Linked DNA regions of Homo sapiens: region 2 is linked to region 1. The links come from fine-mapping of genetic effects on gene expression. Tissue or cell type: whole blood. Region 1 holds a variant in brackets; the other region holds the start of a gene. All regions are shown on one strand. Distances are between the middles of the regions.

Region 1 (8,106 bases):
CCTATTTTAAGAAATTGCCACAGCCACTTCAACCTTCAGCAACCACCACCCTGATCAGTCAGCAGCCATCAACATCAGTGCAAGACTCTCCACCAGAAAAAAAGATTATAACTTGCTAATGGCTCGAATGTTCATTAGCATTTTTTAGAAAAAGTGTTTTAGAATTAAGGTGCGTACATTGTTTATTTAGACATAATGCTGTTGCACAATTAATAGGCCATAGTATTGTGTAAAAATAACTTATATGCATTGGGAAATTTGATAATTCATGTGACTTCCTTTATTGCGATACTCAGTTTATTGTGGTGGGCTGGAACCAAACTTGTAATATCTTTGAGGTATGCCTGTACATGTTCAGTACAAACACAATCACCCATTAAAAAACATTTTTTATCTATGGTTGATTGAATCCATGGATGCAGAACCCACAGATATGGAGGGCTGACTATATAGGTACTGTCTGTGATTTGAGGCATCCACCAGGGGTCTTGGAATGTATTCCCTGTGGATAAGGACATACTACTGTATGTTGTTTTATCATCTTTCCTTTGCTTCTTTAAATTCATGTTTTTGTCAAATTCTTCAGTGCTACCAAGTTTGTCTAATGAATTTTCTGCTGTTTGTTAGGTTATTTTCTTTTCTTATCTTTTTTTCTTTCTTTTTTTTTTTTTTTTGAGACGGAGTCTCTGTTGCCTAGGCTGGAGTGCAGTGGCACAATCTTGGCTCACTGCAACCTCCATCTCCCATGTTCAAGCGATTCTCCTGCCTCAGCCTCCAAAGTAGCTGGGATTACAGGGGCATGCTGCCACGCCCAGCTAATTTTTTTTTTGTATTTTAGTAGAGATGAGGTTTCACTGTGTTGGCCAGGCTGGTCTCAAACTCCTGAGCTCAGGCAATCTGCCTGTCTCGGCCTCCCAAAGTACTGGGATTATAGGTGTGAGTCACCGTGCCTGACCACAGGTTATTATTTTCTTCCAAATTGTTGCTGTTCTTTTAAATGAGACAGGGTCTCACTCTGTTGCCCAAACTGGAGTTTAGTGGCGCGATCATGGCTCACTGCAGCCTCTAACTCCTGGGTTCAAGCAATCCTCTCACCTCAGCCTCCCAAGTAATTAGGACTATAGTTGCATGCCACCACACCTGGCTAAATATATATATCTATATCTATCTATCTGTATATATTTATATTTAATAGAGATAGTCATTTTACATTGCTCAGGCTGATCTTGAACTCCTGGGCTCAAGCAATCCTCCTGCCCGGCCCTCCTAACGTGCTGGGATTACAGGCATGAGCCACTGCACCCTGCCAAGGTTGAGTTGTTTAATCTGACTTTTGCATACTCTTTCCCTTGTGAGTTTTATTTTATTGTAAAAATTTTGCTTAGTGTATTAGGTCCCATTACTTTTTCTTTCATTTTGATTATGTTTATGATATAGTCTGAATAAAGTTTCCTTGAGCATACTTGTTTATCATATATATATATATAGAGAGAGAGAGATGGAATCTCACTTTGTCGCCCAGGCTGGAGTGCAGTGCAGTGGTGCGATCTTGGTTCACTACAACCCCTACCTCCCGGGTTCAAGCAGTTCTCTGCCTCAGCCTCCTGAGTAGCTGGGATTAGGTGCCTGCCACCACATCCGGCTAATTTTTGTATATTTAGTAGAGACGGGGTTTCACCATCTTGGCCAGGCTAGCTTGCACTCCTGACCTTGTGATCCACCCGCCTCAGCCTCCCAAAGTGCTGGCATTACAGGCGTAGCCACCACACCTGGCCTATCTTGTATTTTGAGTACGTTCAGTACAGTTTGAAGGATGTTTCTGTGATTAATCTACTTATTAAAGTGCTTATGAAAGTGGTATCATGGCATGGAGATTGGGAAAGCTTAGTTGGATCTGTATTCAAACTTTTCTGAGATTTATAAAATATCTTAACGTAGGTTTTGTTCCATCCAGCATGGATTCCTGTAGTCTGTGGCTGTCAAAGACAGTTGTCTCTAGTGTTCACTTCCCTACTTCACTCTACCATTTTAACTGTAGCATACCCTCCGCTCTGGCTTTCAAGAATGAGAGGGTTGATCCTACCTGATTTTTGAGCTTTATCATTAGCTATCCTTTACTCATAATATCTGTACTTTCTAGCAAAACTTGACTATTAAGGATCAATATATGTGAAGTTAAGGATGCAATGTATAGTTCAGTACCTTGTATCTAATTGTCACTCATTCATTATATGTTGAAGAAAAGTAATTTGTTGTTTATTTTACATTTTGTCCTTTCAAACTCATTAGAATAACGTGAGCATACCTATTTCAATGTTTGTGTAATTTGTATAGTTGCAAATTACACTGTTATTAAGTAGAACTTTGTAAGATGGTCTGTATAAGAATTTAAAATTGTTTCTTCACTTAAAAATGTTTTCAGTGGCAGGCCTCTAAATCACTTCTTTCTAAGGCCTGTGGATTTTTTATACACACTGGATTATTATCCATTTTGAGGTAAATATTGAAAGAAAAGACCAATAATTCCTTCATTTTTTTTTTGTTCCATGCCTTACCACTGGTTCATGTTATTATATAAAGACTGTTGTTAGATTTCTTTCTTTCTTTCTTTCTTTTTTGATATGGAGTCTTGTTCTGTCACCCAGGCTGGAGTGCAGTGGCACGATCTTGGCTCACTGCAACCTCTGGCTCCTGGGTTCCAGCAATTCTCCTGCCTCTGCCTCCCGAGTAGCTGGGATTACAGGCACCTGCCACCACGCCTGGCTATTTTTTCTTTTTTTTTTTTAGTAGAGATGGGGTTTCACCATATTGGCTAGGCTGGTCTCGAACTCCCAACTTCAGGTGATCCGCCTTCCTCAGCCTCCCAAAGTGCTAGGATCACAGGCGTGAACCACCACGCCCAGCCTGACTGTTGTTAGATTTCTTATTTTTGTAATGTGCCCTAGAATTAACTTGATCTGAACCTTACCTTCTTTGTTTTTTTAAAGGTAAATGAAATTGCCTTTATAAATACCCTTGAAGCCCAGAATAAACGTCATGATGTTTTATCAAAATTGAAGGAATATGAACAGAGGCTTAATGAGCTACAGGAAGAGCGTCAGAGAAGACAGGAAGAAAAGCAAGCACGTGATGAAGCTGTGCAGGTAGGATTTTTTTATTCAGCAAACATTGCTTGAGCACCTGTCATATTTGTAGGGTCCAGCCCCGCAGGGTCGGTGGGTTTTTCTCCCCATGTGCGGAGATGGGAGATTGTAGAAATAAAGACATAAGACAAAGAAATAAAAGACAGCTGGGCCTGGGGGGACCACTACCACCAAGACGTGGAGACCGGTAGTGGCCCTGAATGCCAGGCTGTGCTGATATTTATTGGATACAAGACAAACGGGCAGGGTAAGGCGTGTGAGCCATCTCCA[A/G]TGATACGTAAGGTCAAGTGGGTCACATGTCCACTGGACAGGAGGCCCTTCCCTGCCTGGCAGCTGAGGCAGAGAGAGAGAGGAGAGAGAGAGACAGCTTACGCCATTATTTCTGCATATCAGAGACTTTTAGTACTTTCACTAATTTGCTACTGCTTTCTAAAAGGCAGAGCCAAGTGTACAGGATGGAACATGAAAGTGGACTAGGAGCGTGACCACTGAAGCACAGCATCACAGGGAGACGGTTAGGCCTCAGGATAACTGCGGGCACAAGAGGTGGAGGAGTAGAGTCTTCTCTAAACTCCCCGGGGGAAAGGGAGAGTCCCTTTCCCGGTCTGCTAAGTAGTGGGTGTTTTTCCTTGACACTGATGCTACCGCTAGACCACGGTCCGCTTGGCAATGAGCATCTTCCCAGACGCTGGCGTTACCACTAGACCAAGCAGCCCTCTGGTGGCCCTGTCTGGGCATAACAGAAGGCTCTCACTCTTGTCTTCTGGTCACTTCTCACTATGTCCCCTCAGCTCCTATCTCTGTATGGCCTGGTTTTTCCTAGGTTATGATTGTAGAGCAAGGATTATTATAATATTGGAATAAAGAGTAATTGCTACAAACTAATGATTAATGATATTCATATATAATCATATCTGTGATCTATATCTAGTATAACTATTCTTATTTTGTATATTTTATTATACTGGAACAGCTCATGCCCTCGGTCTCTTGCCTTGGCACCTGGGTGGCTTGCCGCCCACACATATTTTAGATTTAAAGCTAGTTGCTGAGGACCCCAAATGGAGTAACCTAGTGTTTGTTCCCAAAGGTGCATGGTTCAATATGGCACTCTAGAAACATAAAGTCTATTTTCTAAAAGATAGTGTGTTCTCTTTCAGTTACGGTCATCAGTTCTTTCATCAGCAGACTGTAATCATAGCAATAGAATCATCAGCTTCAACTAGGTGAAGTACATGAGTAGTAGTGTATATTTTTAAATAGACATCTTTGGTTCCTTACTCTGCATTTTGCAGATTTGAAATATAACAGTTATCTTTCGTTTAAAAATGATGACTCTCACTTCACAATTTTTAACATTCATTAAAACTTAAAGGAAAACAGTTTACTAAACTAGTAGGGAATTTCCTCCACCAACCAACACTTTAAGAATTGTTTTGGCTCTTTAGAATTATTTTTGTTTTTAAAAGTGCTGAAGTTTCCTATGGATTTAATTTCAGTGAAAGATTTTAAACCTGTCTACATATGCTTGAGATATACTGAGATAGATAGTCAGAAAAATCCACTGGTAGATAACATGTATAACATTAAAATTTTAAAAATGTGTAATCATTACTTGCTGTACAGGCACTAGTGCCAAGTATTCTGTAAATACAATAATGGTAAGATCCTAACCTAATACAGAATTTCAGAGACCCTCCATCCATTTTATTTTTACTCTTGAAGCATTCTCATGGACTATTAAAGGCAATTGTGATTCTCATTTCTTGTAAGTAAAATACCAAGTGCTGCCATCATATATTCTCAGTTTGCTGTTATTGGTATGTATATTCTTTATTGATTAATTATAAGCTCAATTTTTTCTTTTTTACTTATCCTGCTTTGTCCTTTTGTCCTAATCATTTGAATTGTAGGCATAAAGAGGAGCTACAGAATCCTTTCTTAGGCTGCCTTAAACACCTCCCTGGCTGAGATATGAAGGGGTCTGAGAGGTTCTTCTGTAGGCTTAAGAATTAGTTATATTTCTAATTCCTTTGCTGTAAGTTTTAATTCTTTCCTTGTGGCTATATAGATTCATAGTGTATATTATTTTATAAAGTCATGCTTCATTTATTAAACAGATATTTAGAAATCCCTACCCTTTGCAGGGTGCTTTATGAGGTACAAAGTTTCCTGTCTTTCGGGAATTTAAATTTCAGATTGGGAAATGGTAGCTGAATTTTACTCATTAGCTGTATGGCTACCAGTTCTCTTTTCAAGTTATTAAAAATGGAAATTAATAGGTTGAGTAACTTTTTACGTCCAGTTATCTCTTTTCATACAATGTTGGAGTTGGTCTGATATCCATTAAAACAGTCAGCAAGTTGACATTATGTTTACAAGTGTACACTTGGCTACATTGCACATACCTGCAGTAATTATTTTTACATAATACATATTTTATAAGATCAGTTTAGGATTTAAAAAATTACATTCCTCAAGCCTTTGGTCTTATATTAATAAAATATGAAATGAAAAATTCTGCTTTAATTATTTATATTTAATGCCTAAGCTCTTTGTATTTTGTTGTGAAACATGTGTTTTCAGATATAATATGGAATTTTTAAACTTCAGAAAAATTGGACTATAAGAGGAATTTTTTTATTCACTTTTTTTTTAATGGAGAAAATTTTCTGTGCCAGATTTGATTGTTTTTACTCTTAAGAGTTTTTGATTTTTTTTGGCTAACCAAGTTTCCACATATTATTCTTGATTAGTCATGAGAAATAGCTACAACTATTTCATGAATAGTATGCTCAGACAGTAAAGGATATATTTTAAAATCTAATTGCATGACTCCAACAGTCTGCAGTGTGCCTGTTATGTCCTCCTCAAATAAGGGCATTCCCTCCAATTCCCAGTTTACCCTCTTCTTATACCACCTACCCCCTCAAAAAAAAAAGAAAGAAATAGAGATCCTTTTGGCTATTTTTAAAAGGCTTTCTTTCCCTGGGGCAGATAGAGCTTGTTGTGGAGATGAAGTTACTATTGTGCGCTCAGTTAACTATTAGAAATGTTCAAATCTCTCTTTTGTGTTCCCTGAACAGAAATTGCTTTGTTATTTTTTTTCTGCTATCTTTTACTGAGCCCTTACTATGGCTAAACTCTATGCTGAGAACTTACCTGTAATTAATAATTTACATCTCACAATCAACTGAGGCTCTTTAAGGTGAAGTACTTTGCCCAAGGTTATGTAAGTAGTAGGTACTAGAGCCTAGATCAATGTATTCCATTAATTATAGAGGAGAGGCTACCGAGAGGTTGTGAGTGCTATCTGGGGAATGGGTATGGATTCAGAGAAACATATCAATAAGATGAGGAACATGTTAGTGACAAATATTTCATGTTGAAGTTACCCAGTTTTCATGATTTATCTTCTGGCTTGATGATGATGATGATGATAATTATTTAGAATTTTATATATGCCAGGCCCTATGGTAAGTGCTTTTCATATATTAGCTCATCTGTGCTTTATAATATCCTAAGAAATACATATTATTATTTATCTTCTAGAAAAGTAAGGCACAGAGAATGTAACTAAGTAGCCCAGAGCCACTGTGCTAGTGAATAATGGGGTCAGGAAACAAAACCAGGGAATCTGACCCGATATCCACTCTTACACCCACTGTGCTCTATTGTATTACCTCTTTCTCCTTCTCACAAACTGTCTTTACTTAATTCCATCATGAAAGCTTAGTTCAGAAATAAAATCTATTAACTATGGTTTTTTCATCATATTCAGGTGTTTCTATAACCATATATTAACACAAGGCTTTAGAAGTGATTAATCAGAAAACATATATTAAGTTCTGTATTAGTCAGAGTTCTCTAGAGGTACAGAACTAATAGGATATATATGTATATGTGTGTGTGTGTGTGTGTGTGTGTGTGTGTATGTGTATATATATGTGTGTGTGTGTATATATATATAAAACATATATATATATGAGTTTATTAAGTATTAACTCACACAATCACAAGGTCCCACAACAGAGTGTCTACAAGCTGAGGAGTAAGGAGAGCCAGTCCGAGTTCCAAAACTGAAGAACTTGGAGTCTGATGTTTGAGGGCAGGAAGCATCCAGCACGGCTGAAGGATGTAGGCTGGTAGGCTAGGCCAGTCTCTCTTTTCATATTTTTCTGCCTGCTTTATATTCTAGCCTCGCTGGCAGCTGATTAACCATCACAAGTTCCCACAAAACAAGTATAACACAGTGTTTGTATAAAAAAGCAAGTCTTTACTGAATTATGTGTAACACTGGTAAATGACTTTCAGAAACCAGATATCATTGCTATTTGATTTTTGTTTAAACTTTAAGAAGCAGAGTACCTAGTGGCAAGCCCATGTTTCTACTTGGCTTGAACATGTAAGTTTGGTGAAAGGTATATTACTTTGAATCATTTTTATTTTACACATAATTCTAATATTGGAAACAAATATTTCTAACATTAGGAACGCAAGAGAGCTCTAGAGGCAGAGCGGCAGGCCCGTGTAGAAGAATTGTTAATGAAGAGGAAAGAACAAGAAGCCCGAATTGAACAACAGAGGCAAGAAAAGGAAAAAGCCCGTGAGGATGCAGCCCGGGAAAGAGCTAGGTATCTCATTTGCTATCTTGATGAACATTTTGCACTGAGTGAATATTCAAGTTGAGGTCTTAAAGCCATTTACTGTCATGTAGAGTTTTTTTGAGATGAGGTTTTGCGATGTTCCCCAGGTTGATCTTGAACTCTCTGACTCAAGTGATCCTCCCACCTCACCCTCCTGAGTAGCTTGGACTACAGGTGTGTACCACCACACTCAAATCAAAAAATATATAATTTGATTCTGGATGGCTTCAGCAAAAGAGACTTTTGGGGAAGATACTGAGGGCATAATTAGTAAAAGGTTAGAGGACCAAGTTTGGAAATGTTCTGTCAGACATGAA
Region 2 (8,106 bases), 390 kb after region 1:
TCCAGGGAGACCTGGTTTAGGGCGCGTAATGGGCCGAGGTGAGGTTTCAGAGCCCGCCACTGTTCCCCCTCCCCCACCGCCTAGGGCTGTACCCAGCCCCTCAGCCCAAGGCCACCCCCTCCCCTCTCTGCCAGGCTAAGTGGCTAAATCCCCAACCCGCAGAGTCCCGAGGTCGGGGCGGGTAGGGCAGGGCCTCACCAGCTGTTGGAAGGCGGGTTGGTCCAGGTCGCTCTGGAGGGCAAACTCGCTGAGCGCCTTCCACGGCGGCTGGTACGTCTGCACCTCCACTGCGCTGCCCTGCACGGCGTTCTCATGGCGGATGGGACTGCCCGCCACCAGGGGCGTCCCAGTCAGTCCCTGAAGGCTCTGCGGGGCAAGCAGAAGGCAGTAGGTGCTCGAGTTAGGTCTGGCCTTTTCTGCCACCTTTGAGACTGGAGCTCCAGGCCTTGAGTGATTTAGGGTCTGCATTGCTTTGCGGGGAGGCGCACACTCGATCGCATCGGAAGAGCCCTCTTTCTCCACTGGGGATCTGCGGGGGCCGCAAACTTGCCACGATAGGTCAGCCTCGGTGCTGGAAGCCAACCGCCCGGTGAGGAAAGGCAAGACCTGCACTCCCACCTTTCTGCAGCTGCCGACGGAGTGCACAACCCACCAGCCCGACTGGCGGGCGCTGCACACTGCCATGCAGCCTTGGGCTCCGCGCAGCGCCCGGAACCCGCAACGCGGGGCTGCCACTGGGACAAGGAGAAACCCCGATCCCAGACAAAATAGGAAGCCTCAAATCCAAGGGAAGCCTTGCTGTGAAGGTACAGACATACACCATCTGGAGCGCCCAGTTCTCCCTGGATCTCCCAGGGCTCGCCCAGAAAAGGGCACGCAGATACCGCGGCGGAAGCGCAGCCCCCACCCGACTCGAGCCTCCGGCCCAGCGGCTGCTCACCGTCTTGTCGCTGTGCTGCTGCTGCTGCAGCTGCTTCATGAGAATGGATTTCTTCTTGTCCTTGCAGCGCTTGTTCTGGAACCAGACGCGGATGACCCGCGGGCTCAGGCCGGTCATCTCCACCAGCTGCTCCTTCATGAGAGCGTCGGGCCGCGGGTTGGCGGCGTAGCAGGTCCGCAGAGTGTGCAGCTGCTTCTCGTTCAGCACAGTCCGCACGCGGGTCGTCTTCTCCGTCTGCTTGTGCACGTGCGGGCGCAACGCGGGCTGCCGGCCCGACCCAGCGTCTGCCAGGACAGGGTGAGGCCAGAGGTTAGCGAGGGGCCGCCACCCACCCGCCCCGAGCCCAACCTCCGGGTGGCCCAGCCCCCCGGGGCCCGATTTCGTTTCTGTTTTATTCTGTTTGTTTCGTTTAATTGTTCGTCTTCCTCTCCATCTGTTCGCCTTACTCGGAGAGAGCTGTGCATTTTCGTTCTTTCTCTCGCTCCCGGGCCGGACTGCCCCGCAGCGATCTCTCCCGAGCTCAAGCAGGGCGCGGGAGCTCGGCGACAGGCCGCTGCGGGGAGGGAGTGGCTGCTCAGGGATGTGCCTCCTCCAGTCGCAGGACCCTCGGAACGAGCGAAGCCCTCCGGAAGAAGTCGGAGTTTCAGAGGAAGAGGAAAGAGGCTTGCCCAGGACTCTGGAGAGGGAAAGGGACCGACGTGGACCCAGGGCGAGGCGCTGCCCAGGGGACTGGGTGGGAGGTGCGAATATGCCGGGGGCCTACGAGGGCCCTTCCCCTCCTTCAGAGCCCATTTGGACAGGGCCAGGCCACATGTGTAGAAGACTCATCCACGGTTATGGACGGGCCTCCAGGGCTTGCAACAGTTCCTTCCTGCCCGCCCTTGGGCTTCGGCCCCTGTCTCCTTCCTCAAGGCTCCAGGTTCCCCAGCCCAGTGGCCTCCCACCGACCAAGGTGCTGAGCAGCCGCTGGCACTCTCCTCGCTTGGCCCCAGGTTCTCTCCATCCCGGGGAAACAGTGACTGATTCCAGAGCCTGCACCCTGAAGCCCGAAACAAACAAAGGGGAGCCTCTCCGAGATCCCAGATGGGGGTGCACTGAATACCCGCTTGCTCCCATTTCACATCTCCATTTGATCCCGACCCATATATACCGTGGATCTGTACTGCACCATTTCGGTTTATGTTCCCCTCTACGAATTTCTAGGTCTGGACAAATATTTACAAATAGCCCATCCAGCCCAGTTTCCTCTTTCTATAGGGAGGAAGTGAAGATCCAGAGAGGGGAGGAGCGGGGCAAGGCCACACAGCACCCAGAGGCCCAGCCTGGTCTACGGATCTGTGCTGCAGGCCTATGGCTACCTGGGGGAAACTGCCTTGCCTGGGGTGGAGGCACCTCTGTTTCTGTTCAGCCGTACCTGCCCATTATACACTCAGACCCCATCTCTGGGCAGCTGCTGATTAGGACCCAGAATATTCCAGTGACAGTCCACTATGCATTGATACTCCCCCTCCCCCAGAAGAACCTGGCTAAATTGTTCATCAAACTGGGCCTCAAAACAAGATGGCAAAAACCCCTCTTTGTTGGGTTCTTGGCTCCTGGCTGACCAAGCTCCTGCCCAGCTCCCAGTTTGGAGCTGTGTTACTTACACACATACCCCTGGGCAAACCTTACCCTCTGACAATAACACATATTCCTCCAAGAAATTCCTAATACAAGCCCCAAGACGGACACCACTTAAGATTCCCTGTTGTCATCCACTCTTCTGCTCCTAGCACTGTGCCCTGCATGTTCCTGGTCATGGAGAACACGATTCTGCACAATTCTCCGTGCTCACACACTCATACACACGCAGTTTCTCCCGAGCACACGAGAATACACACAGCCTTGTTCCCAGCACACAGTTCCGCACTGATACAGAAAAACACTATCCCGGCAGACGGAACCACACACAACTGACAACTTCTCGTTAGGGACACAAGCGTACCCCTACACACACGCACGCACATACACCCCGCTCACCCCGGCACAGGCCCCGGCGCGCTTACCGGGCAGATGCAGGCCGCGGGCGCCGGGAAGCGGGCCGGGGCTGCGCGGGCTGCCGGCCGCGGCGCGCTCGAGCAGGAGGCCGTGGTCGGCGCGGCAGAGCAGCTCGTGCTCCCGCAGCGAGAACTCGTCCCCAGGCAGCAGCTGGCGGCTGCACACGGAGCAGCGGAAGCACTCGATGTGGTACACGCTGTCCCGCGCCCTCATCACCAGGTCGCTGCTGCTGAAGCCCACCTGGCACTTGGCGCACTTGATGCCGAACAGCCTGCGGGCCCAAGGTGCGGCGGTGTCAGCGCTGGGCCTGCGGCCGCCCTCATCTCCCTGGCTGCTACGGCTCCGGCGCGCGCCCAGGACACTTTGTGGCCACCAGGAGACTGCGGTGACCCGCCTGCGGGCATTCCCGGGCCCGGGGGAGCGCTGCGGCACCCGTGCGGGATGCGGATGGCCTTCTCCCTGGGCAGGGCCGGGGCGCGCGGGCAGGCCGCCATCCCCAGTCCCGGCCCCGGCCCCTGCGCGCGGTGGCCCAGCCCGCGTTCCCGCCGGCCTCACCTGACATAGTCCCGCTTGCAGTAGGTCTTCCCGTCTCTCACGAAGCACGTGCACGTCTCGTCCAGGTACTGGCTGCACTCGGCACACTTGAGGCAGGCCGCGTGCCACTCGAGGTCGGGCGACACCCGCAGGATAAACTGGTCGTGGATCTGACTCCCGCAGCCCACGCACATGGCCGTCCCGGGCTTCTCTGCCGGGGAAGGGCGCGGGGCCGCGTCAGGCCTGACTGCCCGGACCCAGGCCGGCCTCGGCTACTCCAGCCCCAACCCAACCCGCTCGCTCTCTTGCTCTTTCTTTCAAGACTTGCGACCATAAGGAAAGATGATGAGCTCTCTAAAGGTCCAGGGCATTGGAAACGAAAAACCAGTATCTTGTGGATTGCTGAAGGTTTCTTCTGTCCCCCACCCCAAATATTTCGTTATTACATTCATTAATGACAGTCGTTTTGTCGACGTGTCTTGAAACTAAACGCAAACACGAAACTAAGAAGAGAGTAAATACACAGGCACTGCGGACGCCTGGATATCAACACCTAACGGTGCTGTCCTGGCATTTCCGCTCACACACTCCCACTCACAGCGGCTGCCTCCTATCCCAACACAGACACATCGTCTTTCGGCAGTCCCCGCTCATCCTCTCAGACATTTCTTAGTTTAAATATCCCAGAGCAAGCGAAAGAAAGCTTCCTAGCTTTGAAAAACCGAAAGGCAAACAAACAACAACCAAAAAAAAAAAAACCCACATCCCTAAATCAAACCTAATTGCCTTTGCGCAAAACAGAAGCAGATTTCGCAGCCCGAAGTCATCCTAGCCGGCTTGAGAAATAGTGTTTACTTATAAAATAAAACAACAGGATTCCCAAAGATAAGCAGTCCTGCAGGAGACATGCATTCGTTTTTCCTCTCCTAAACTATTCTGACAAATAGAAGCCACTTGTAGAATCCACTAAACATTTTTCTGCATTAGAAATTTTGCATATTAAGCATACACACACACCCCACCCCACACACACACAGAAATACTTACTCTTGGAATGATCACCCATAGCACCCAGAAAAGGATAATGAAAAATAATATCCACCATGCAGAAAAAGAGATGTGCGCAAAGTGTGCGGCCAGGGGCAGAAGGACGAGGGTCGCGCGCCCGGCCTCGGCTCTTTGCTAACTAACTCCTACTGCCCCGCGGAGTTGAAGGAGCGATTCCGCACCGGCCCGCACGCAGCATGACGTCAACACGCACTAGCCCCGGGCCGGAGCTGGGGGCGGGACCTGTGGCGTCACGAAGCTTCCCCAGAACTGCCGGGGATGCGGGGGAGGTGATGGGGATCCAGGGGCTGATGGGCGGGGTGGGTTGGGTTGGAGGCTGGGGGTGAAGGGAGATTGGCTGGGAGGAAGTGGGCCAACCCTGATTGGCCCGGAGTGAACAATGGAGTGCAGCCCCCCCACCTCCGAAACCTACAAGGATCCTCTCTCATGCCCCGGGCCTGGCAATCTGGACTGGACCTTGCGTCACCGCCGAGCTGGCTCCGCGGCCGTTACAACTCTGAGCTTCCTCTTGGACTTTCGGGGCGGTTTTCCCAGGCGCGCTGGAGCTGGGTGATGGATACCTGAGGGTGGAGATGGCTCTCCTTTAAGAGCTCCCTTCTTATATAAATTAAAAAAAAAAAAATTAAACCCACTCTCAGGACGAGAGAGCCGAGGACAAGGGGGATCCGTTTGGACGTGACCGTCATCGTCCAGCTGGTCACCTTTCTCCTCTCATGTGCCTTTGTTCTTCGGGTCCAAGCTAGAGAGAGTGTAGAGAATGACCACCTGGGTTCTGATAAACTCTATTTAGACTTTCCTATCCACACACACGTAGAAAACTTTAGATTGGGGCATTACGTGGGTTGAGCCAGAACCCAGATCCAAAAGCGCTCACCCGGGACTGGGACGGGTCCTGACTCCATCCTTGCTGCTGCTGCCGCTGCTGCTGCCCCTCCTCCCTCTCCTCCACCACCACCTCCTCCTCCTGCTCCACTTCCTTTTTTTTGTTGTTTTGTTTTGCTTTTAATTTGTTGCTGTTGTTGTTTTAAATGTAACATGGACTTCCCCGCCCCCTCATTTTTCCCCCATCCAAATGGCATAGCTCCTTTTAGGAACACTGCTGGGGTCGATTGCGTGTCCAACTTCCAAAATAAAAGATTTTTCTAAACTCTTGTCCTTCATTAACAAACCCACTGCAATGCAAATAATCAGAAACGAACGTAAGGCGCTGGGTAATTTACAGTGGTATCTGCGAGGCGGCGGCTCGTTGGTCCTGAGAAAATCTGAGAGCTCTGAGCACAGTCCAGGCATTCTTTCAAAGAAATCGCTGTGGGTTTTGTTTGAAAGGGTTCAAAGACCGGCCCATGAATTATAAATAACATTTATCCAACCATGGTGTCTGTTCTTGTTTTCCCATTAAAAGGAGTACCAAGAACTTGGTGTGCGCCTGGGTGGGGCGCGAGGTGAAACGCCTGCGGATAAAGTGTCTCCACCGCCATTCCAGACCCTGCCCAGACCTTCGGGCTTGTGGGCCTGAGGGCGCGGTCGCTACTGCCGTTCTACTAAGAGCATGAGGTTGGTTGGCGTCGAAACGGATGCAGCCGAGGGCGCAGGCCGAGGCTTTGCAGAAGGCTAGGGCGAGGCCCCGAGTGCACGCTAACATTATTCGACCATGGTCCACGGTGAACGTTCCTCACCGGCCCCGCGCTGGGGCGAGCGCTTTAAGCCTCGTCCAGTAGCGTCCGGCTTTTGAGCTCCGCCTCCACCTTTAGGAGGTCTAGTCTTCTCACCGGTCCGGCTTTTTTTTTTTTTTTTTTTTTTTTTTTTTTGAGATAGACTCTTGCTGTGCCGCCCAGGCTGGAGTGTAATGGTGCGATCTCGGCTCACTGCAACCTCCGCCTCCCGGGTTCAAGCGATTCTCCTGCCTCAGCCTCCTGAGTAGCTGAGATTGCAGGCGAGCGCCACCACGCCCCGCTAATTTTTGTATTTTTAGTAGAAACCGGGTTTCACCATGTTTGTCAGGCTGGTCTCGAACTCCTGACCTCGTGATCCGCCCACCTCGGCTTCCCACAGTGCTGGGATTACAGGCGTGAGCCACCGCGCCGGGCCACCGGACCGGCTCTTGTTACAGTTTACCACCCGTTGGCCAATAGGCCATTTCTTGCGTCTTTAGTCAACAGTCCCCCAAAGAGCGCTCACCCTGAGTGTGTGCGGGCAGGTCAGGGGTTGGGGGATGCTGCGTTTGAATGAATGTGTTTATGTAAATGGGGGACAAGAGCGAGGGGGTGGGTATCTGTGCCTGAGGCTGTGCCAGGACACCTGTGTGACCTCAGGCATCTTATTTTAATTCTCCTTCCCTCAGTTTCCTCATCTGTAAAATGGGGGTATAATAATTGTAGCTATCTCTATTACATAATAATTAAATAAACTGTTCTCTGGAAAGGGCTTAGAGCAATACCTAGCACAGAGTAAGTGCTCCATATGTGTTAATTATGACAGTTATGACTGTGGCTGTATCTTTATGTTGGGAGCCTCTGCCCACCCTGCCTGCGTGTGTCTGGATGGGGAGGGGAGGTCTAAGTATGTCTCAGTATGTGTCATCTGATGATTTCTTTGTGATTTCGATGTGTGCTTGCTGTGTGTGTGTCTGCTGTGTAGATGGGGTTTGGAGATGTGTGGTCTGTGCATAGACTTTGTGTACAGGTTATATCTGTGAATGTGGGTGCACAGTCAGAACTGGGAGGGGACTCGGTGTGTGTGTCTGCATGTGGAGTGAGGAGGTGCGTCTGGCCCAATGGCCCTACCCTTAGGTGACCCTGGACTAGGCCTGGCTCCCAGCACCTACTAGCTCTTGCTCGCCAGGCCAGGAGCAAGCACATCTATAATTCAGGGGTTCAGACAGCTGGCCAGGAGGGGGCAGCCCCAGGCTGGAATCGTAGTCCCAGCTTTTAACCGTCTCCTGCCCAGAGAAACTCTTCCTTCCCGTCCAGAAAAACCTGTCCTTTGAAACTTCACTAGGGAGGTGGGGATTGGAGAGGGTCACCCCTCCTGGGATGCTAGGAAGCCAGGTCAAAACAAATATTTGTTCAGGGCCACCATGTGCAAAGTCCTTGTTGTTAGCCTATTAGGTCTTAAAAGTAATGCCATGTGGTGAGTAGTATTGGGCCCCTCCAATCCTCGAGGAAACTGAGGCTCAGAGAGGGGAAGTTACTGCCTCAGGTCACAGGTTAAATCATTGCTGGCATTGAACCCAGGTCTATCTGGCTCCATCTTGCTTGCTTTTTTCACTGTGCCATTGAAGAGCCACATGAGTGTAGCTCCATCATTCACCCATTTCACATCTCTGGAGCTGTAAAACCAGGGATCCATTTCAAAATCACTCCATGTGTGACTTCTGGTCACAGCCACCCCTGAGAGACCAGCACTGACATGGGAGAAGAAAACACCTGCACCTGCTGGGCACGGCCACAGGCACCATTGATGTGGCCCTACCCTGGTTCTCTGCCTCCTGGCTGCTCCCTTCTCAGGTATGGAGGGGCCACACACTC

The links. PIP is the estimated chance that this variant, and not a neighbour inherited with it, causes the effect.
Region 2: ISL2 starts here. The variant in region 1 is fine-mapped to the expression of ISL2 in whole blood (TOPMed, PIP 0.91).

The regions. Positions count from the first base shown.
Region 1 is chr15:76,728,266-76,736,371 of GRCh38, reverse strand. SCAPER (S-phase cyclin A associated protein in the ER) reads left to right here. Exons shown (of 32, transcript NM_020843.4): 16 at 2,988-3,143; 17 at 7,635-7,777. Among named protein-coding and RNA genes, the nearest start is that of MIR3713, 150 kb to the right of the region's middle. The variant A/G (reference allele first, on the strand shown) is at 3,414.
Region 2 is chr15:76,333,394-76,341,499 of GRCh38, reverse strand. It overlaps ISL2 (ISL LIM homeobox 2), which reads right to left and starts at 4,727. Exons shown (of 6, transcript NM_145805.3): 1 at 4,559-4,727; 2 at 3,533-3,722; 3 at 2,986-3,248; 4 at 941-1,224; 5 at 199-366. The coding sequence starts at 4,616. RefSeq lists enhancers at 607-1,362, 1,560-1,769, 1,790-1,859, 3,407-4,218, 4,644-4,693 and 2 more.